6 linked regions of the Homo sapiens genome follow. The protein of the gene in region 5 purifies or fractionates together with the protein of the main gene of each other region. This does not show direct contact. Each region holds a gene or a part of one and is shown on either strand. Other genes may lie near its edges. The genes, in order: FITM2, ITGA6, DIPK2A, CNNM3, TSPAN18 and POMGNT2.

What was found.
Region 1: the proteins of TSPAN18 (region 5) and FITM2 purify together in Homo sapiens (affinity purification with mass spectrometry; 2 studies listed by BioGRID and IntAct, with this or other methods). This does not show direct contact.
Region 2: the proteins of TSPAN18 (region 5) and ITGA6 purify together in Homo sapiens (affinity purification with mass spectrometry; one large-scale study listed by BioGRID and IntAct). This does not show direct contact.
Region 3: the proteins of TSPAN18 (region 5) and DIPK2A purify together in Homo sapiens (affinity purification with mass spectrometry; one large-scale study listed by BioGRID and IntAct). This does not show direct contact.
Region 4: the proteins of TSPAN18 (region 5) and CNNM3 purify together in Homo sapiens (affinity purification with mass spectrometry; one large-scale study listed by BioGRID and IntAct). This does not show direct contact.
Region 6: the proteins of TSPAN18 (region 5) and POMGNT2 purify together in Homo sapiens (affinity purification with mass spectrometry; one large-scale study listed by BioGRID and IntAct). This does not show direct contact.

Annotation. Positions count from the first base shown.
Region 1 is NC_000020.11:44,305,272-44,308,202, forward strand, and holds part of FITM2 (acyl-coenzyme A diphosphatase FITM2), read right to left. Parts: intron 1,970-2,931; coding exon 1,354-1,969; 3' UTR 1-1,353. UniProt on the Homo sapiens protein: Fatty acyl-coenzyme A (CoA) diphosphatase that hydrolyzes fatty acyl-CoA to yield acyl-4'-phosphopantetheine and adenosine 3',5'-bisphosphate.
Region 2 is NC_000002.12:172,430,586-172,434,085, reverse strand, and holds part of ITGA6 (integrin alpha-6 isoform b preproprotein), read right to left. Parts: intron 1-3,500. UniProt on the Homo sapiens protein: Integrin alpha-6/beta-1 (ITGA6:ITGB1) is a receptor for laminin on platelets. Integrin alpha-6/beta-1 (ITGA6:ITGB1) is present in oocytes and is involved in sperm-egg fusion.
Region 3 is NC_000003.12:143,978,323-143,981,822, reverse strand, and holds part of DIPK2A (divergent protein kinase domain 2A isoform a precursor), read right to left. Parts: intron 1-3,500. UniProt on the Homo sapiens protein: May play a role in cardiomyocyte proliferation through paracrine signaling and activation of the PPI3K-AKT-CDK7 signaling cascade.
Region 4 is NC_000002.12:96,819,268-96,822,767, forward strand, and holds part of CNNM3 (metal transporter CNNM3 isoform 1 precursor), read left to right. Parts: intron 1-3,500. UniProt on the Homo sapiens protein: Probable metal transporter.
Region 5 is NC_000011.10:44,918,962-44,922,461, reverse strand, and holds part of TSPAN18 (tetraspanin-18), read right to left. Parts: intron 3,249-3,500; coding exon 3,150-3,248; intron 2,646-3,149; coding exon 2,463-2,645; intron 1-2,462. UniProt on the Homo sapiens protein: Plays a role in the cell surface localization of ORAI1 and may participate in the regulation of Ca(2+) signaling and the VWF release in response to inflammatory stimuli.
Region 6 is NC_000003.12:43,096,080-43,099,579, forward strand, and holds part of POMGNT2 (protein O-linked-mannose beta-1,4-N-acetylglucosaminyltransferase 2), read right to left. Parts: intron 1-3,500. UniProt on the Homo sapiens protein: O-linked mannose beta-1,4-N-acetylglucosaminyltransferase that transfers UDP-N-acetyl-D-glucosamine to the 4-position of the mannose to generate N-acetyl-D-glucosamine-beta-1,4-O-D-mannosylprotein.

The sequences.
Region 1 (2,931 bases), on a different chromosome or scaffold from region 5:
TTCGCTCAAAATAGAACAGAAAAAAAGTAATCTTATTGCTCCAAAAAAACCAGCATATAGTAATAGAAAACATGGACAGAAAATGATCATAGTCCATTACGTATGAATCATCCAATACTTGGTCGGAGAGGCACTGCATCTAAAAGGGCCTGTTTTGGTGGCTAATCGCAAGTCAGTTGCAATATTTAAACACTTCATGGATGAAACAAATATTACAACCAGAGAGTGTCCTTCAGGCATCAGGCTGTTTTTATAAAGAACCCTGCCTGAGCCGGGCGCGGTGGCTCATGCCTGTAATCCCAGCACTTTGGGAGGCCGAGGCAGGTGGATCACCTGCGGTCAGGAGTTTGAGACCAGCCTGACCAACATGGAGAAACCCCATCTCTACTAAAAATACAAAATTAGCCTGGTGTGGTGACGCATGCCTGTAATCCCAGCTACTCGGGAGGCTGAGGCAGGAGAATCGCTTGAACCTGGGAGGTGGAGGTTGCGGTGAGCCGAGATCGGGCCATTGCACCCCAGCCTGGGCAACAAGAGCAAAACTCCATCTCAAAAAAAAGAAAAAAACCCTGCCTGAAATAGATGCCTATGCAAAACTGACCAGTGGGAAATACTGTTTTGTTTTGTTTTTTCTTTTTTGAGGTGGAGTCTGCTCTGTCACCCAGGCTGGAGTGCAGTGGTGCGATCTCAGCTCACTGCAACCTCCACCTCCTAGGTCCAAGCAATTCTCCTGCCTCAGCCTCCTGAGTAGCTGGGATTACAGGCATGTGCCACCACACCCAGCTAATTTTTGTATTTTTAGAAGAGACGAGGTTCGCCATGTTGGACAGGCTGGTCTCGAACTCCCAATCTCAGGTGATCCGCCTGCCTCGGCCTCCCAAAGTGCAGGGATTAGAGGTGTGAACCACCATGCCTGGCTGGAAAATACTGTTAAGTAACAGCAGTAAGAGCCGTGAAAATCTAAAGACAACTGGAACCAGGGAGAAGGCAGCAAAGGAGTCCCAAGGCTCTGGCCACTCCTTTAGCCACACCATAAAGGCTTTCCTGATTCTGCCCTTTTGCTGAGCCTTAGGTCCCCACTCTAGGGACAAAAGGAGTGTTCCAGATAAAGGTCAAGTCTTACCAGGGACAAAAAGTGCCTAACTGGGAATGGTGGTGCTTGCAACACTGGTGATGTCGCCAAGAATAGTCTGAAGACTAAACTCACTCCCCAGACTTCAGCACCACCCACCAAAACTGCCTGGTACACTTTCCCTCTGAAGTAGGATCAATAATTTAGCCAAATAACTAAGCAAAATATATATTTGAAAAATAGATTAGCCATTGTCCTTCTGTCCCCCCTCTGTTACTCTTTTATTTCTTGTAACTATCTTGCTTCAAATTCAAACTACAGCTCTGGGGAGGAAGTCCTGGGGAAAAGGCTTTCGGATACCAAAACCCGTATGTCCCGTACCAGCTCAGCAAACCAAACAAGGTGCCAAACACCTTCTGGGACAAGTTGTGGAAATAAACAGCTGTGCACAGAAACATCAACACCCAGATGAAAGTCAGAATGCCCAGGGCCACAACCAGGGTGGTGATGGCGGTGTGGAGGCAGTGGCTTCGGTCCGTCTTCACCTCATGCAGCACAGACATCTCTTCTACAATCATGAGGGCGCAGAAGGTCAGCAGGAAGGAGTGACCTGAGATGTCAAAGCCATGCCAAAAGCCCCCTTCCTGGTGGCACTGCTGCTTGCTCTGGTGTTCCTTTCTGACCCCCTCCAGGGCTGGGGACTGGTAGCAGCTGCCCGTGTAGTGTTCGATGTTGGAGAAGATGGAGGTGCAGATGTACCAGATGGCCGTGCCCACAAGCAGGGTGCTCAGCCGCCGCAGGACCAAGCCAGCCTTGCCGGTCAGATGGTAGTTGGTGAGGGCAATGAAAGGCAGAAGGAGACAGAACGTCCAGGCCCAGGCCACTTTGACAAAATACCTGACAGAGGAGGAAAGTGGAAGTGAAGAGAGGGAACACGGTGGAGAGGACACCATGTCAGGACTCAGGTCTCTACACTGTCAGGGGAGGGAAAATGAGAAAACTGATCAAAGCTACAGCTCATAGCAACTATCATGTTTTAGGTACTTACCATATACTTCACTTACTAAGTACTTTATTTATTTATTTATTTATTTATTTTTGAGACAGAGTCTCGCTCTGTCACTCGGGCTGGAGTGCAGTGGCGCAATCTCAGCTCACTGCAACCTCCGCCTCCCGGGTTCAAGCAATCCTCCTGCCTCAGCCTCCCAAGTAGCTGGGATTACAGGTGCGCATCACCCCGCCTGGCTAATTTTTGTATTTTTAGTAGAGAGGGGGTTTTACCATGTTGGCCAGGCTGGTCTCGAACTCCTGGCCTCAAATGCTCCGGCCACCTTGGCCTCCCAAAGTCCTGGGATTACAGGCATGAGCCACTGTGCCCAGCCCTCCCCTCCTCCCCTACCCCACCCCTGTGTAAGTACTTTAAATGTATTAACCAGGTAATCCATTAACAACTCTATGAGTTGGCCGGGCGCGGTGGCTCACGCCTGTAATCCCAGCAGTTTGGGAGGCCGAGGTGGGCAGATCACGAGGTCAGGAGATCGAGACCATCCTGGCTAACATGGTGAAACCCTGTCTCTACCAAAAATACAAAAAATTAGCCAGGCGTGGTGGCGGGCGCCTGTAGTCCCAACTACTCGGGAGGCTGAGGCAGGAGAATGGCATGAACCCGGGAGGCGGAGCTTGCAGTGAGCCGAGATTGTGCCACTGCACTCCAGCCTGGGCGATAGAGCGAGACTCCATCTCAAAAACAAAACAAAACAAACGAAAAAAAACAACTCTATGAGTTAAGTACTGTTAATATCTGCCTTTAACAGAGAAGAAAACTGAGACAGAGGGAAGTGCCACACCAAAAGTGGAGG
Region 2 (3,500 bases), on a different chromosome or scaffold from region 5:
AACCTGCCCTGGGTGTTGTGCAAGTTATCCAGCCTCCTAGGGATGGAGGTGTGGGGGTGCTTTCAAGGTCATAGAGGTCTAAGAAGGCCTGGAAACCAGACAGGTGGTATTCCTTAGCAGTAAGCCCAACCTATAACTGCACCACCCACCCTCCATGGGTATCCAGCTCACAGTCACTGCCCCGTCATGTCTATGCACCCATCTGTCCACTCATCTCTGAACACTGAGACCTCACTGGGATTTATCTATGGCTTAGTAGCTACGAAGGGCTGCTAAGTAGAAGGCATGGCTCTTCTGAGATGCACTTTTCAACTGGAGAGTGGAATGGAAGAAAGGGAGAATGTGATGAAAACCAAACCTTTAAACGTGATGAAAACCAAACCTAAAAGGAGAAAGCACATACACAGCACAGGCCGGGAAGCAGGGAAGATGCAGATTGAAGACCAAGTTTGCTAGACATGCCGCCACCACTGCACCTCTTACAGCCTTGGTTTCCTCATCTATTTAACAAACACAAAATGCTCACTCTGGACCAGGACTATTCTAATGTGCGAGGATACTAGCTTCACAGCTGAAGGCAGGAAGGCCTAGGAAGGTTAGGAATCCTGCACAAAATCATAGCTAGTCAATGGCAGAAAAGGGTTTGATCCTACCTGGCTCTAGGCTCTGCTCTTAGTCACTACATTACACTCTGCCTTCTGTGTAAAGGAGAAAAGCTAGTCTGACTCAAACGAAGAAGACTTTAAGAACAGCTTCTTGGAGCACACTTATGGAAACTGACGTAACAGATCTAGGCTGGGCTGAGAATCACACTTTTATAAAAGGTTGCCCAAGTAGTTACCCTGAAGACCAGCCAGGTTTCAGAACCCCTAAGCTTCCTTCCAGATATAAAGTTATTTGATTCCAGAGTTGTACCCAAGCCCAGAAAGGGAAGATGGGCACCGGGGGCTGAGACTACGTCCACTTCCCACTGCTGCAGTACGTAATCTTTACCATCCTCCCAGGAGCCAGCGGGGGTGCTACACAGATCCCCAGATCCCATGCTATGGCTCCTAGGCTCACCCCCGGAGCAGGTAAGCAGCCTTCCCACCATCCTACCGAAAGAGTTAAATATATCCAAGATTCCCTTACTATCCTTGAAGAAATAAACCTGCCGCTATCAATTCACAAGTGACTTCACACGTGTACTGCACACTTCCATTTGACCCCCACACCCCTGTCAAGTTGCTTTCAGAAAGATCTCTATTCCACAGTCATCCTTCTCTGTCCAGCCTCATAACAACCAACCACCTCAGCAAGTCCCGAGTACCCACTGCAGTGTAGGTCAGCCTGTATTTCTGGGGTTAGGTTCTAAAGTCTGCCTTTAGGGCAAAAGCCAGGTGAAATTTACAAACACTCATGAAAATCCCTTAGCTGGAACCCCCCGCCTTTGAAAAATCAAAAACCAAGAATTAACGTCTTGTGCGTTTCTTTGCTAAGCTTACAGATTCCGTTTCCTCAGAGGCAGAAGACACCAAGGCCTGAGCAAGGAAGGGCAAAGGGTTAAAGAAAGGGATTTCTCCCTCTCTCCACCCTCAGCAGGAAGAGTTGATGTCACAGGTTAAACTGAGTGTATAATATCAGTCTCTATTGTATTTGCAAGGCATATGCTAGGTGCTAGCAGGCAAAGAAATGAATGTAAGACCCCTGCCCTCACATAACCTACAATCCAGTTGGGAGAGATTAGATCATGTCCTAAAGATAGTGGATCACAGTTTAGCACAAAACATCAGAATTGTCAGACACAATGTGCTACAGACATCCAAAGGAGTTAAAGACATTGCTTTAGTGTAGGATGGGGAAATTTTAAACTGGTTCTTAAGCTATGATTATATTCTTAAAATGGGCTGATTCAGCACTAAATCAGTGTTTCAGGCACAATTGACCCTGTCATCTAAGCTTACAACAGTATTTTCTGTTTTGTCTCACTGTCCCTCTTGAAAATACCAAATAATTCACTGGCCTCACTGTCCACAGTAATATGTTGAGCCGAGGTCTTCAGGAAACCATGCGCCATAATTCTGGTACTATTTGGTTATGAAAGCTTAAATTAAATCTCAATATATTGTTATGCTAAGAGAGTCTATATAACTGAGAACACAGAATAACCACTTCTTTATAATAAAGGAATCCTTTTATATAAGCATTTATCCTGACTTCCCCAACAAATTATTTATACCATATAAATACTTTGACCCTTTTTTTCCCCAACCCTGTCATTACTTGGTCTCACACCAGCCTGTGTTAAAATTAAACTTGCCTATTTCTGCTTTCTTGCAGAGTCCTAAGACTTCCTGTAAGTCTCGCTGCCCGTTTTGGCTTTTTCTCTACTCTTAGCATTCAAGGTGACCCAGCAATCCCTGGAAGATGGCCCTGGGCCACATGGCACTCCGAGTGAATAAATGCAAGGAAGCAAGTGCTTAGGTACACATCCTGAATACAGCTCTGATTCTTGGCTAGCTACAGCCACACTTCACTGGGCTTTTTCAGAAGGGAATGGGGTGGAGGCAGGCAAAGAAGGACGGACCCAGAACTTGTTCCAAGGCCAGCTGGAATAGAGTCAATAGTAAGAGTCCAGGCACCAATATTTAAATAGATAGCCCTGACCTATGCATATGGGAAGCAGTTTGATAAATCAACACAATATAGTACACTTCCAAAATTCAGATGCTTGCCGATTTCTCTAGGTCTGAAGAACATTTCTGGCTTTTCCATTTAAAAATGGCATGAGCATGGGTCAGAGATTCAAATCCACATTCTGTTAAGATTCTGCTCAAGCTGAACTTTCAGCTTCAGTTTCTTCATCTGTAAAAAGAGGCAGTTGGACTAGATGATCTCTAGTTCAGAAAATATGATTTTAAGAGATGGAACATGACAAGTCTGAGAAAAGTCAAGAACAAACCTAGTAAGGGTCAGAACAGAACAGACCGCGGGCCTGGAGCATTTCTGGAAGACAGTGGTGGTCAGAGAGAGAGACCCCATAAAGAAGAAAATGAGGGTTGGCAGAAATCCAAAATGACTTCATGAGACTATCTCTTATAGATCTCCTTCTTCTAGGTTCTTCCCTGTGATCATATATAGATCCATCTCTTCCCAGAAGAGCTAAGAGTGATGATTCATAGGCTGGATATACCCACAGTCATCATCACATACCTTCCACCTCTGGGAATGACTCAATCTTAACTACCTAAGAGAAATTAAAGAGTCCAAGGTGCTCAGACCCTGACCTCAGTCACTCGGCGGACCAACTTGGCTGACCATTGAGTAATCTTTTGGAGTCCGAAACTTCTTTAATATACAGCCTGAAAACCTGGATGAAGTTTATGGTATCTACTTCAATTTTATAGTCTCCAAAGCTTTAGGAACACCCGACATGTTTTGGGGCTCTCTGACACAATATTATTCTGCAAAAGTCATAACTGGAGTTTAAAATGTGACTGAATAGTTAAAGGCACTATAGA
Region 3 (3,500 bases), on a different chromosome or scaffold from region 5:
TAATTATCTTTACAACAGTCAAAATGAATTCAAAAGATAGATTAACACAACCTCCCTCAAGCCAATATCCTTTTGTTGAAGTTAAACTTTATTAGTTTGGGGTGGTTTTTTTGGGTTTATTTTTTGTTTTGTTTTTGTTTCTGTTTTTGTTTTTGCTTATTTATCATCTGTTTAAGAATTTTTCAGATTTTATAAAGGTAACGGTTTATATATTACATAAGAGCATTCCAGAAGCCAACATTATGCTGGAAAAATAATGTTAAGATTGATTATTTAACCTAAGTGATCTCCACCCAGGCTGAGACCTAAAGGATGAGTTTAATATTAAGCAGACTGGAGATGGGGCAGTTCAGGCACATGAAAAGCCTGAAAGTATCTTCTCAGAAATGAATAAAAGACCAAAGCAGCTGCAGTGAAATGAATGGGGAAATGACTTGCGGTAAGGGAATCTGGAGAGTGAAGCAAGGACCAGATCATGTTGGGACTTATAGAATCAAACAGAAATCTTCAACTCAGTCTTTATAGCATCATCTATATGTATGCCATGCAAAAACAAATACATGTCAAAATCTTGATGTTCAGGATTATCTTACATACTGAAATCAAACAGTATGCTATGGTATATTTACCTTATTCTAAAAAACAAGCCTTTAAAATATCACGATAACCCTTTGATCAATATCCACCATCCTGCCAGGTTAATAAGGCCATTTCATTCTATCATGCCATAACACAGTCATGAAAAGGGTGGACATGGAATATATGAGTAAAGATACATAAAAGAATACATTTTGGTATTGTTTATTTACTTACAAAAAATAAATGACATGAGACTAATAGATTAAAATAGAGTCTACTTAAAAGTGCTTGTATTCTTTTTTCTCCTACATGACCAAAAATATTGTATACTAAATTTAAAAGATCAAAATTCCTTTTATACAATATAAAATATTTTATAATACTTCATTACCTCATAATATTCCATTAAAAGGAACATAGCTTTGCAGTTTGCCTTAAGAGAGAAAATAAGTACAGACCAAGAGATGTGTTACCATGCAAGACTGATTTTTGTTAAACTTGAAAGTTCTTAGTATAAACAAACTAACTTCAAAAAAACTATTAATAAAACATACAATCTAAAATGTGAATATCGATTTTCTACATAACTGGCATTTCTACAAAAAAAAAAAAAGTTTAAGCTTGAAAACACTCTTAGAAAGTATATGTCATCAAAAGCATAGAAAATGCTTAAAGGGGCCAGGCGCGGTGGCTTCACACCTATAATCCCAGCACTTTGGGAGGCCTAAGTGGGCAGATCACCTAAGGTCAGGAGTTTGAGACCAGCCTGGCCAACATGGTGAAACTCGTCTCTACTAAAAACACAAAAATTAGCCAGGCGTGGTGGTGAGCACCTGTAATCCCAGCTACTCGGGAGGCTGAGGCAGGAGAATTGCTTGAACCCGGGAGGCAGAGGTTACAGTGAACTGAGATCACGCCACTGCACTCCGGCCTGGATGACAGAGACTCCATCAAAATAAAGACAGACAGACACATAAGAAAGAAAAGAAAGAAAGAGCTAACTTAAGTTTTAAAATTATTTTTTAAAGCCCAAATTTGAATGAAATCCCATTGTAGTAACGCATGTTATAACAGCTGTTCATAAAGATTAGTCAACTGTACTGGTGACAGACTAATGTGTTCACAGTTTGGTGAACTGTCTGGAGGGGAGATATAGTAAAATTACGGGGATGATTTAATGGTTACTGAATTTTTGCTAAAATTTCTCTAAGATCTTAGCTTCTTAATTTATACTGCTAAATAGCAGCCAAAATCCATTGCAAATACTGTAGAAGCTTAACAATTTCAAGATTTTTAAGTCCTAGCATATGTCCCATTTATTTCATGAAATAATTTTCTGAATGCCATTTTCCACCCACCTCAAATTCCAACAATATTAAACAATGCCTTGAAAATAGTAAGGTTGTGTTATTTTACTGAATATCATGTCCAACAGCTGTATCTAAAATTGGAAACTGATGTCAAAACACATTTTAAAAACTAAATTTAATAGAAATAGATTATCTTTTAGAATAAATTGCTTAAGAAATGCTGCCCCCACCAAAAAAAAACACAAAACAAAAAACACTTCACTTGTTCACAAGTTTTAAATATGCATAAGTTTACTAGTCTCAACTGACCCTTACTGTGTCCCAGGGGTATATACAGATCAGTTCCTGGCACTATTGACCAATTCCACATAATTACTGTCAGATCTTTTCATTTCAGAGTTAACCCCCAAAAAAGCATTAGAAAGAAAAAATACGAAGACACTGAAGCATCATACTTACTTCAGATTACAAATCTTTTAAGATTCTGTCTCAGAGTCTAAGGTCTAGACTTAACCTGTTTTTTTGTACTACCATTTACCAATGTACTAAATAGAATTACTAAACTATAATAATGATTTACAGAGAAAAAAAGAAACTATTTGCCTTTTACTTCTTAATCCTTATCTAAACCGTCTTTCCTACCATATTCATTCTATTCATTACACTTCATATGAGACAAATCCCTAATCCCCTTTTAAACTACTATTTTTAAAAAACTATAGCCTGAATAGGTACATATGATTTACGTATATGTAAGGACAGTGACATTTGAATGTCTGCAATAAGAAAAGTAGGATTTTTACATTTCTAAGACAGACATCAGCATAATGTACTAAAGAACTTTTAACTACTATAGCTGTCTAAAAATGGAATAAGCTGATTTTCAAAGAAATAATACACTGTAAAAAGCTTTACAACTGAAAACATTTAACAGATATTACTTGAATAATCCTTTCTTCTTTAATCTTTAAAACAATCCTGTTAGGTAAGTATTAACAACCCCATTTTACTGATTAAAAAAACTTAGAATCGGAAACATTAAGTGACTTGCTCAATACCATCCAACAACTTTGTGGTAATACAGAATGTGAAATGGATGCTCTATCAATACTGCCCCCTCCACCCTTCCTCCCACTCTCCACCCCCATCTATTGGCAAAATCTCTGAAACTTTCCCTGGTACCATTCCTATCAATATACAATGAGATGTCCCTCCCTGAGTCATGTGACAGTATATATATATATATATATAGATATATATATATCTATATATAGATATATATATATATATATAGATATATATATATATATAGATATAGATATATATATATAGATAGATAGATAGATATAGATACCTTTTGTACAGGGCTTATTAAATGGATTGTATAATAATTAGTTATTTGTGTACCTACCTCCTACATAGTAAGCTACTTGTTTCCTACGGCCATCTTTCCATCCTTTCAATCCAAATGCCTTGTAACAGATTGTAAAATGAACAGACAAATTCAGTTCTTTTGGTTATAAATTCAAAGAGCTCTCAAGAATTTCACAGACAACTTCCTATCACCTTATACTAACCTCACCTTACACTAATAATTTTCAGTCATGTTAC
Region 4 (3,500 bases), on a different chromosome or scaffold from region 5:
TTCTCCTGGTGTGGTGGCCAACATTGCAACCCTGGAATCAGCGGAGTAGGTTCCATCCTGCCCTTGCCTGCCCCCAGGCCCTGAAGGCTGCTCAGCCTCTTGTGGTGCAAAGTCCTCTGCTGTTAGTGATAAGAGTGGGTAAACAGACCTGCGGGGGGAGACTCATCAAGCACTTTGGCCAGTGCCTGGCGTGCATATGCTGTGTGCTTGGCGTTAGCAGGTGGTTCTTACTCCGGGACAGGCTCTGCTGGTAGGTGAGCTGTTTGCCAATCCAGGAGCAAGGGGTGAATCTGGAATTGCAGATTTCTGTTCTTCTAGGCAGGTCACCAGACTTCCTTTTTTTTAGGGAAAAAGTGGAAGACTGTAGCTGTCCTTTTGGTGTTCAAAGCACTCACGTTTCTAGATTCTTTAAGAAAAAGCTCACTCTGGTGTCTGGCTTCAGCTGGCTGCTGCTTTCAACAGTTGAGCAGTCACCAAGCAGAGATTTGGAGCAGCGGAGATGGAAGGGTTGTCCTGTTCAGAACTAAAGGCAACTTCTGTAGTTGGTCATGATGCTCAGGATGAGGCTGGTGAAAGTGGTCTTTCATTTTCCAAACCGCCAGTGTCAGGATCTTCGCTGCCATGGTCTTGTCTTTCAGATGCGATGGATGAGCTTGGTCCAGGGTGGTTGGGGATTCCACTTGGGGAAGAATAAAAAATGTTCATGTTCGTTGGGAAGGAGCGCAGAGGCAGGATGTCCCCTGGCGGGGGGGCTTGTGTGCTGTGTAAGGAACTTGTACTTGATCACCAGGGCCATGAGCATCAAGCAGCAGCATCAGTTATTTTTACAGATCAGTAACAATTGTGGACACCAGCGCAGGGAGACCAGCGGTGTGAGGGATCCAGGTGAGAGGGGATGATAACCTGAACAAGGTTCATGGCAGGCCTGGAGAGGAGCCCCAAGAGGGCAGCAGAGGTGGAATTGGGAAGATTGGTATCTGGCAGCAGGGCTATGCAACAAGGAGGAGCAGCTGAGGATGAGGCCCAGATTTCTGGCTGTGTGGTGGCGGTGCGCCTTCACTAAGGGCCGGGCGTGGGGAGCAGGTTTTGGCCATTGAATTTGTGTCTGTGCAGTGTCCCAAGAGGCAAACTCCTAGCAGGCCGTTGATGTGAAATGCAAGTGGGAGGCAGAATAGGAGTGTCTCTCAAGTCATGGGAGGGAGGCAGAGAGCCTCAGCCTCCTAGGAGCACAGGTGTGTCAGGGGCAAGGGAAGCCCAGGAGAAGCTGGCCAGGAGGAGGCAAGACCAAGGAAGGAGGAGTTCCCGAGATGCGGAATGTCCTGGAAGCTAAGGGAAGAGACCACTTTCCCAGGGAAGGTGAGTGACAGGAGAGGAGGCCAGCAAACAGGATGCCGTTGACCTTTGCAAGAGCAGATTTGGTGCCACGGCAAGGGAGCCATTTGGGGAATGAATGAGGTGTGGAAAGGTACGAGAACCAATGTAGACAGCCCTCCACAGAGTGTGGCTGCAGAGAGAAGTGACTGGCAGAGGATGTGGGACAGGGGAGGAGGCCTTCTGCTGTTTGGTTTTAAGATGGGCAAGTCCAGTAGGTTCAGATTGAAATGCAGGTTGAAATGTAGCTAGGAAGGAAATTAGAGAGGCCAGGGTCCGGGCTGCTCCTGTTCTGGGCTGGGTGGCCTCCAGGCAGGTCACAAGCAGCCCGATGCAGGAGGATTTGGGGTTGAGTGCCTCTGCTTGAAACAGACCTTTCTAAAAGCTGCCTGACAACATGCTGAAAAGGATCCCCTTGGAAGACAGTGGGGGAGGTTTTTGGAACCTGGAGGTTAAATGGGGAGCTCTTTAATCCCCCTTGACTTCCCCGCTCCTGTGGTGAGTGAGGGCCATTCGTGGGCAGACTGGCCATGTCTTTCTGGTGACATCCCGGAGCTTTTTTCTCTGCTTCTCTAGTTCAGTGCAGTCCTTTGGCAAATATCTTTATTTTTTCCGTGTTAAAGTCCTTTTTGTCCTTCCTAACCTTCTTAAGCATTCCTCCACTTAGGAACAAAGGGCATATTGCAGTCTTTGTGGCGTGTGAGGTTTTAAAAATCGATTCCCTTTCCATCTCTCTGCCAAGCTAATGAGCCTCTGAATTTCGTGGAGCTGGAGTCCCTGCCATCTTGGCAGCTTTCATTCCGGGTCTTGTTTCTTTTGCTGTGTCTGCTAGGGAACTTTGTAGTCTGGGGGCAAGGTAACCTCCCCAGCAAGGCGCCCCTCAATCAGTGCCAACTTGAGATGACGTGCTGATTATTTTGTGCAGACGTCACCAGGAAGAGTGAGTGCTTTGGAGCCATAATAAATAACTTGGACAGCTGCTCCTTGACTTACAAATGGAGTTATGTCCTGATAAACCCATTGTAAGTTGAAAATACCTTAAGTCAAAAATGTGTTTGATACATCTAACCTACCAAACCAAATAGTTCAGCCTGGCCCACCTTAAACATGCTCAGAACACTTACTTTAGCCTGCAGTTGGGCAAAGTCATCTAACACAAAACTATTTTAAAATAAAGTGTTGAATATCTCATGTAATTTATTGACTGCTGTACTGAAAGTGAAAACAGAATGGTTATATGTGTTTGAAGTATGGTTTCTACTGAATGCATATTGCTTTTGAACCATCAAATTTGAAAAATTGTAATTTGAACCATTGTTAAGTAAGGGACCTTAATGTACAAAAGAACATTATTATTATTATTATTATTTTTTTTTTTTTTTTGAGATGGAGTGTTGCTCTCTTGCCAGGCTGGAGTGCAGTGGCACAATCTTGGCTCACTGCAACCTCTGCCTCCCGGGTTCAAGTGATTCTTCTGCCTCAGCCTCCTGAGTAGCTGGGACTACAGGCGTGCACCACCACGCCCAGCTAACTTTTTTATGTTTTTAGGAGAGATGGAGTTTCACAATGTTGGCCAGGATAGTTTCGATCTCTTGACCTTATGATCCGCCCGTCTCGGCCTCCCAAAGTGCTGGGATTACAGGTGTGAGCCACTGCGCCTGGCCAAGAACATTATTATTATTATTTTTGAGACAGAGTCTTGCTCTGTCACCTGGGTTGGAGTGCAGTGATGTGATCGTGGCTCACTGTAGCCTCTACCTCCTGGGCTCAAGTGATCCTTCCACTTCAGCCTCCTGAGTAAGCTGGGGCCACAGGTGAACACCACCATCCCCAGCTAATTTTTAATTTTATGTAGAGATTGGGGTCTCCCTATGTTGCCCAGGCTGGTCTCAAACTCCTGGCCTCAAGCGATCCTCCCAGCTCAGCTTCCCAAAGAGATGGGATTACAGGTGTTTCCCACTGTGCCTGGCCGCAGTCTCTGCTTTAAAGGAACCCAGCTCTGGTTTCCTGTCTGCTGGGAGCCAGATGATTGCCATGATGCGGAAAAGAGTCTGACCAGCTCCAACAGCAGTGAGGAGCGTCAGCACACTACTTTTGTCTTTCTCACAGTATTCATTCATTCACTGAGG
Region 5 (3,500 bases):
ATCCTTGCCATGGGCCTGCCAGCAAAGTCAGAAATGTATCCTAGGGCCGGACATGGTGGTTCATGCCTGTAATCCCAGCACTTGGGGAGGCCAAGAGGGTGGATCATTTGAGGTCAGGAGTTTGAGACCAGCCTGGACAACATGGTGAAATGCCGGTCTCTACCAAAAAATACAAAAATTAGCTGGGTATGGTGGCATGTGCCTGTAGTCCCAGCTACTTGAGAGGTTGAGGTGGGAGAAACACTTGAACCCTGGAGGTGGAGGTTGCAGTGAGCCAGGATTGTGCCATTGCACTCCAGCCTGAGCGACAGAGCGAGACTCAGTCTCAAAAAAAAAAAAAAAAATGCATCCTGGGCTTTAAGCAAGAGGGCTTTGGAGGAAAAGACAAATAGAGACAGTTCCACAGCAGCAGATTTTTAACGGGACGAAATGCCTAGGAGGGACATGAATGTCTCAGCAAAGAAACCCCAGGAGCCAGTCTCAGACCCTCAGGAACAACAGAGTCACTGGAAAGAATGAATGTGGCTGTGCAGGGACCTCTCTGATGAGCTCTGATTTTGAAGACATGCCCAGGAGAGGAAAGGAGACATCCTAACGGAGGATGAGTCCAGAAATGGGAAGCACATCTGATGCGGGGAATGCGGCCCATGGGAAGCCTCCTGAAAACTTACAAGTAGCATTAAAAGGTTCTAAGTTTGGCTGTTGGCAACGGGCATCTCAAACAACAGCTCCTTCACCAAGTTACAAATTCACTGGTCTTTCACATAAACCCCACGCTATGGTGGCCGCTGTATGCCATGGAACTGTACGTGGCCCAGGCTCCTTCTCTCTGGATGCTCTGCCATCCTAGGGGCCACCTCCCTCTGCCAAGTCCTAGCCAGAGAAAAAAGGAGGGGTGGGCACAGCACTTTCTCTTAAGGATGTGACTCAAGTTGCACAAATCACCTCTGCTCACCTCCCGTTAGCCAGAACTCGGTTACATGGTCTAGCTGCAAGGCAGGCTGGGAAGTGCAGCCTCTAGCTGGTGGTCATGGGGTGTGATAACCATTCCCTTCCCAAGAGAGTAGGGGTGAATGGATCGTGGGGGGCAGCCAGCAGCCTCTGCCAACATATGGAATCTGAGGTCCAGCGAGGGTGTCTTGGCGAAGGCAACACAGCAGTTAACAGCCCACCCCTGCCTGCCATGGAAGCCTGAAACTCCCCTCCCCGCCCTGCAGCTGCTCCCCACGGCAGGTCTCTCTGCCCCACGTCCACAGTGGCCTCAACTCAGGGCCCTCATTTCTCTATTGAGCCTCTTTCCCCCAATGCAGGAAGGCAGGGTGATGAGGGACAGAGAGAACGTGGCCCTCAGGGCCTCAGGAATCCATGGGGATGTGCCAGGGCCAGAGGGGCTGAGTTCCTGGGGCAGAGCTGAGGCTGGAAAGGGCCCGCCAGAGCCCCAGGACCCAGGCCTCTGCTCACTGTCACCTCCTCTGGGACTTTGCAAGTTCTGCCTTGAGCCCCCACCCAAGGCCCATTCTAGCCCCTCATCTGGTTTTATTTCTTCGCAGCAATCATGACCATGTGAAATGATTACTTCTCATTAGTTTGCTGCTTGTTCATCTTGCGCGTCCTCTAATGAGATCGTGAGCCTCGCAGGAACAGGGGCCTTGTCTCCTGTCCCCTGCTGTGTCTCTTGCATCTGGAACTCTCCATGAGACCCTCGTTAAAGTCCTACTCAAGCAAGGGGGCTGGGGCCCAGGCTTAGATCACCCTCGTCCTCTCCCTCCCTCTCCTCCTGCCTAGCCTGGTCACACACCCACACTGGCAGAGTGGGGGCTGGTCAGTGGGAAGAAGGGGATTAAGAGCAAGGGCATTGTGAACTCATAAGGGTGTGTGGGCAGGAGGCACACAAAGCCAGGCGCTTGTCTTCCCTAGAAATGGCACGTGCAGGAAGGGAAAGGGTTTCTTCCAAGGCTGCGAGGAAGTCCTCAGGTTGCAAGAGAACCTGAAGTCTAGGAGCTTCTCTGACCTTGGAGAGTCAGGTCAAGGAGACCTTGCTCCCTTAGGGTGCCCCACATGGCAAATAAGAGCTTCCTCCAAAATACAGTGCATGGCTAAGAAGGGCCCCCCACTGTGCAATTCTGGTTCTGTCCCCCTCCCTCCCTTTGGACCTGCATTATCAGAAACTCAGGAAACATCGGGAAACTCCTACTCACCCCTTAGCCCCAGCCTGAATGCCCACTCCAGCGGCAGACCATCTGCCACTGTCATCCTTCCCCATTTTGGTTGGATCTCAGGGGCTTGGACAGAGAGCCTCCATCAGCCCCTGCTCAGGTGCAGGCATCCCATATCATGGCCAACACTTCCCTGGGATTCCTGGGGTAGCTTCAGACCCTCTGGGGTGATAGCGCCTCCCACCCAGCTCTGGCCACCCAAATCCCGATAGACCCACTCCCCTGTCTGGAGAGCAGGGCCAGTACCTGCTTGTTTAGGAATAGGCTCCTTCCCAGGAGGCACTCCTCCCGGCTCAGCAGGACCCCGTCCCGACTTTGGGGTTCCCTCCGGCAGCAGGCCTCCGGCACCTCTTCACTATCCAGGGTCAGGAGTCGAAACACAGATGCAAACTTAAAGTCTTCAGGCCCGTTGACCCCGCAGCAACCAAACTAGGGGGAGATCCCAGAGAAGGTTCTGGTGGGCAGGAGGAGGACACAGGGGCGGGGACAGAGAAGGACATACAGCCTCTGCAAAGGAGTGGCATCAGAAGACTGGGTGTGGGCGGGCTCCACCTGTCACCACTGTGTGACCATGGGAAAGCCACTCAGCTTCTCTGGGCCTTCAGTGTCCTCATCTCTATAACAGAGGTGGCAGTAACAATTCCTACCTCACCAGGCGCTTAGCCATCCATAAACAGTTGCTGTGGTTATTATCATCATCATAATGACCATTGCTTGGGGACCCAAGACAGGGAGAGCAAACAGGTTTCATCCCGAGTAGGGACTGTGATCAAGTGGCATGGCTGCCTGGAATGCTGCGTGGATGGTGATTCCAAGGCCAGGTCTGTGATCAATGGGAGAGTGCCTGGATTGATTACTGATGCCTGGCGTGGGCATGTGAACACTGGGCATCGTGGCTCTGAATGTTCATAGCATCTCTGGGGCGTCACTCACTGTGATCATGACCGAGTTCCAGGTGGCAGAGAAGACGTCTGTGTCGTTATTGCCCTGGTAGTGCTTGGTGAGCTCCTTGGTGAAGAATTCTCGGGTGAGCTGGGGGCAGAGGGAGAAGATGGGCTTAGGCCTGGCAGTTGGGTGCAGCCCCCACCCTCCATCGTCTCTCCATCCACCTGCTTGGGAGTTGGGGGAATGAGAGCTAGGGGCTCTGCATCCTGGTGCCAGGTCCCCTGGGATTCTCCTAAACCACCAACTTGGGGCAGTCTTCTTATCCCCAGTGGAGAAAGGAAGTCCATACACATGCACATCTCGGTGGAGCCGAGGTCAGGGCACGCTGAGGACCTCACT
Region 6 (3,500 bases), on a different chromosome or scaffold from region 5:
TGATCCTTATTTGTTTGCTTTCCTTTAGAAAAGCGGAGGTAATCAAACTAGGAAAAGCTGCCTCTTCCTATCACTCCTCTTACTCGTGCCCTAAGCGGAGTTTTGGCCCCTCCACTGCTCTGGGACCAGCAGCTGATTCCCGTGCTGTACCTCCCATCCCATCCTGCTACCAAGGATCCAATCGGCACCTGAAACTGATTCCCAGATTACCAACAACTATTAAATATGAACCCACTCTTACCTTGAAAAACACACTCAAAATCACCAGCCTCTAACACTTTATGTTCCAGGCAGTATACTGAACACTGTAGGTATATTTTCTCATTCAATCTTCAAACCAACATTAAGAGGCTAACACTATTTCTATTACTCCATTTTATAGATTGGGACACAGAGGCTGGGAGAAGCTAAGTAAATGTGTCCAAGTCCCTCAGCATGTACAGAATGGAGGCAGGATCTGAACATGGATTCTAAGCACTGTCTTATGTTAATAGCCCAGGCACCATTTGGACCTCACCTTCTTGGCATTCCAGGGCCACACAGACCAGGGTACTTCAACACCACCATGTTTATCTGCCTCTGCCTCCTCTATATTGGGCACCAAATTTAGAGACCAACTGGAGTGGGGAACAAAGGGCTTAGTGGCTCAGCCAGGACAAAGCATGATAAAACAAAAATTTTTTCAAAAGAAAGAGAAAAAAGAAATCAACAAGAGATTAAAAACATGCCTAGAAAATCCCTTTAGAAACTGAGGCAGACAGGAGGAAGCTACCAATTCACTCCCCCAAACCACTTTACTAAGCTCCCAAGAGCAGTTAAATGTTATCAGATCCCCAGACTTAGTGAATCCTCCTTTCTAGGATCCCAGCTGTTCCGAGCATCAGAGGATAATGTCAAAAATGCTGTTGCAACTGCAGACCCCAGTAACAGCTGGGCAGGTGGGGTGGGGCCACTTGCCTTGGGGAGCTCACCACGTGAGGGTGGTCATTGGTGCTGGGTGCAGGCTGTACTTCTGGGGGCCCTGGCCAGCCCCAGACACGGGCACAGAAAAGCCCATAAGGGCTTTAAGGTTTGATAAGGAGTAAAAGCTCCAGGAATTCTGGGCCCAGAGTAGGAGGTGCACACTCACATGCCTGCTAGGGCCGGAGCCAATGGAGAAAGTAAAGCTGAGGGTGGGCTGTGTGACCTGGAGACAGAACACCTAATGCCAGCTGATGAGAGAATGGCGGGAAAGCAGCCTGGTGGTACCTATCTGTATCAGTCTGCTTGGGCTCCCATAACAGAATACCAGACTGAGTGCCTTAAATGACAGAATTTTCTCACAGATCTGTCAGGGTTGGTTTCTGGTGAGGCTTCTCTTCCTGGCTTGTAGATGGCCTCTTCTCTGTGTGGTGGGGAGGGAGGAGAGGGGCAGGTGAGCAAGGGGGAAAGGGAGGGAGAAAGGAAGCCGGGAGAGGGAGGTGGGGAGAGAGAGAAACACTCTGATCTCTTTTCCTCTTCTTATAAGGACACCAGTCCTATCAGATTAGGGCCCCACCCTTATGACCTCATTTAAGCTTCATTATTAGGATGATCTATCTCTAAACACAATCACAGGGGGGTTAGATCTTCAACATATAAATGGGGGGAACATGATTCAGTCCATAGCAATACTCTTCTGATTTTCCCAGAGAAGCAAAAATCTATTTAAAATGTGAAATGTCCTCATTTGTAACTTCTGGCAATTATTCAAATTGAGTGAAGACAACGTGCACCAAGGCCTGGGGCTGCTGGCCTCATGGTTGCCAGTTAAAAACGGATGCTCATTTGCAAGCTCTGGTCTAAAGCAAATCCCCTGTCCTGCTGGCCTCACCATGGCCTGTGCCCGGGTTCCCAGTTTTGTGACTGCCAGAACCAGCAGCTCACCGGTCACTCCTCCACAAGAAGGGTTACAGAGGTGGAGGGACCAGACAGCCAGCACCTGCCAGACCCAGGCTGCAGAAGATCAGGCAGGGCCCAGGCCAGGAGGGGGTCAGCAACGGTGCAGAAGGTTTTATATTTTACTTTCACAGCAATTTGACTTTTAAGGATTGTTCACACTTCCAATTGAAAATTATAGAAATCTTATTTTGTCACTGAAAAGTGTTTTTGTCCTAAATGCAGCCTGAAGTACTAGTGCTAGATTGTGGAAGCTTTCAGTCCTGTATTGATTTGTTGTCTTACATGTTGTAAATTAGTAAGGAGTAAACATGTTTCACTAACTCAAGCTTATCCTCAGAATGATCTCTTTCCCCCTCCTTTTTTTTTGGTTATCTGAAGTAGTATATGGAACTGGTATTAATAACATAATGCTTACATTTGCTCCTAAATTAAATATTAACCTAATGCTATTGATAAATTCGGCATTTATAGATCAGGTTTTCTGACCAAGGTATTTATCCTTTGGCAAAATCTTGGCAGTCTGAGTGGTTCTTGTAAAACTTAACACATTTAATTATCAAGGCATATTTAACATTTAGTTAAGGGCTCACTTTCTTAGATTAAAACTTTGACATGGGTAGTATCTTCTTGCTTTAGAATAAAGAGCAAAGCAAAGTCAAAGCTGGAGACATTAATCCACCATCAATAGCTGATGACTGTGACTATATTGCCTTATCAATAGAAAAGGAACCCCTTCAAAGCAGGAAAAACTCCAACAGAATTCAAGTCTGTACTACTTTGGTGAGAAGGGTGATGTCAGTCTTTGCTGAGGATAAACCAAGGCTTGAGTGTGGGGCAGGACGTTCGGCCTTCCACCAGCTCATATGCAACCCTCTCACCGGTTTTCAGCCTCCAAATAACGCAGAAACCTTTGCTTGCCACACAGCCTGCCGTGTCATCTGGCTTTTGCTTAGCACAAATGGGTCACCTGGAAGTGACATGTGCCTGTATTGGTCCTCTCTGGCATCACTGTGTACCAGTGTGGTCATAAACGGGGATGAAACAGGGAACAGAACGGTGGGAACCTCTGTTGTGTGGCTCACAAAGGTAATGGAGAACACGCCTACACCAGGTTTTCTAGGTGGAACTACAAAATCAAATGAAAACAATTCTTACAGGGAATGCTCAGACCCCAGTGTGTACACAAATCCAGATGGACCCTCAGGCCCAATTTGAGAGGGTTGAACTGATCAAGAGAGCCAAAAACACCCAGTATAGGAAGCATAAAACATTCACAAAGAAACACGAGGAAGTGTGCACAACAAGAGATCATCCAGGGAAGCTGGCTGGAGGGTGGGTGAGTTTTGAGCAAGTTTTTGGAGGTGTTTTGGTGGTGATGGAGGATAAGATGAGCATCTCTGTTATGTGTCTACATGTCCCAATTACTCATGACTGCTACAAATCTGTCTGCAGCAAGCATCACTGTCTAGTTCTCACAAATGTCCAGCAAACCATGAGGCCTCCAAGCCATGGGCAGTGATGGCCAGGCCCAAAGCCATGTGCAGTTCAGTGGGCACTGCATACCCAGACAGGTAAAGGTC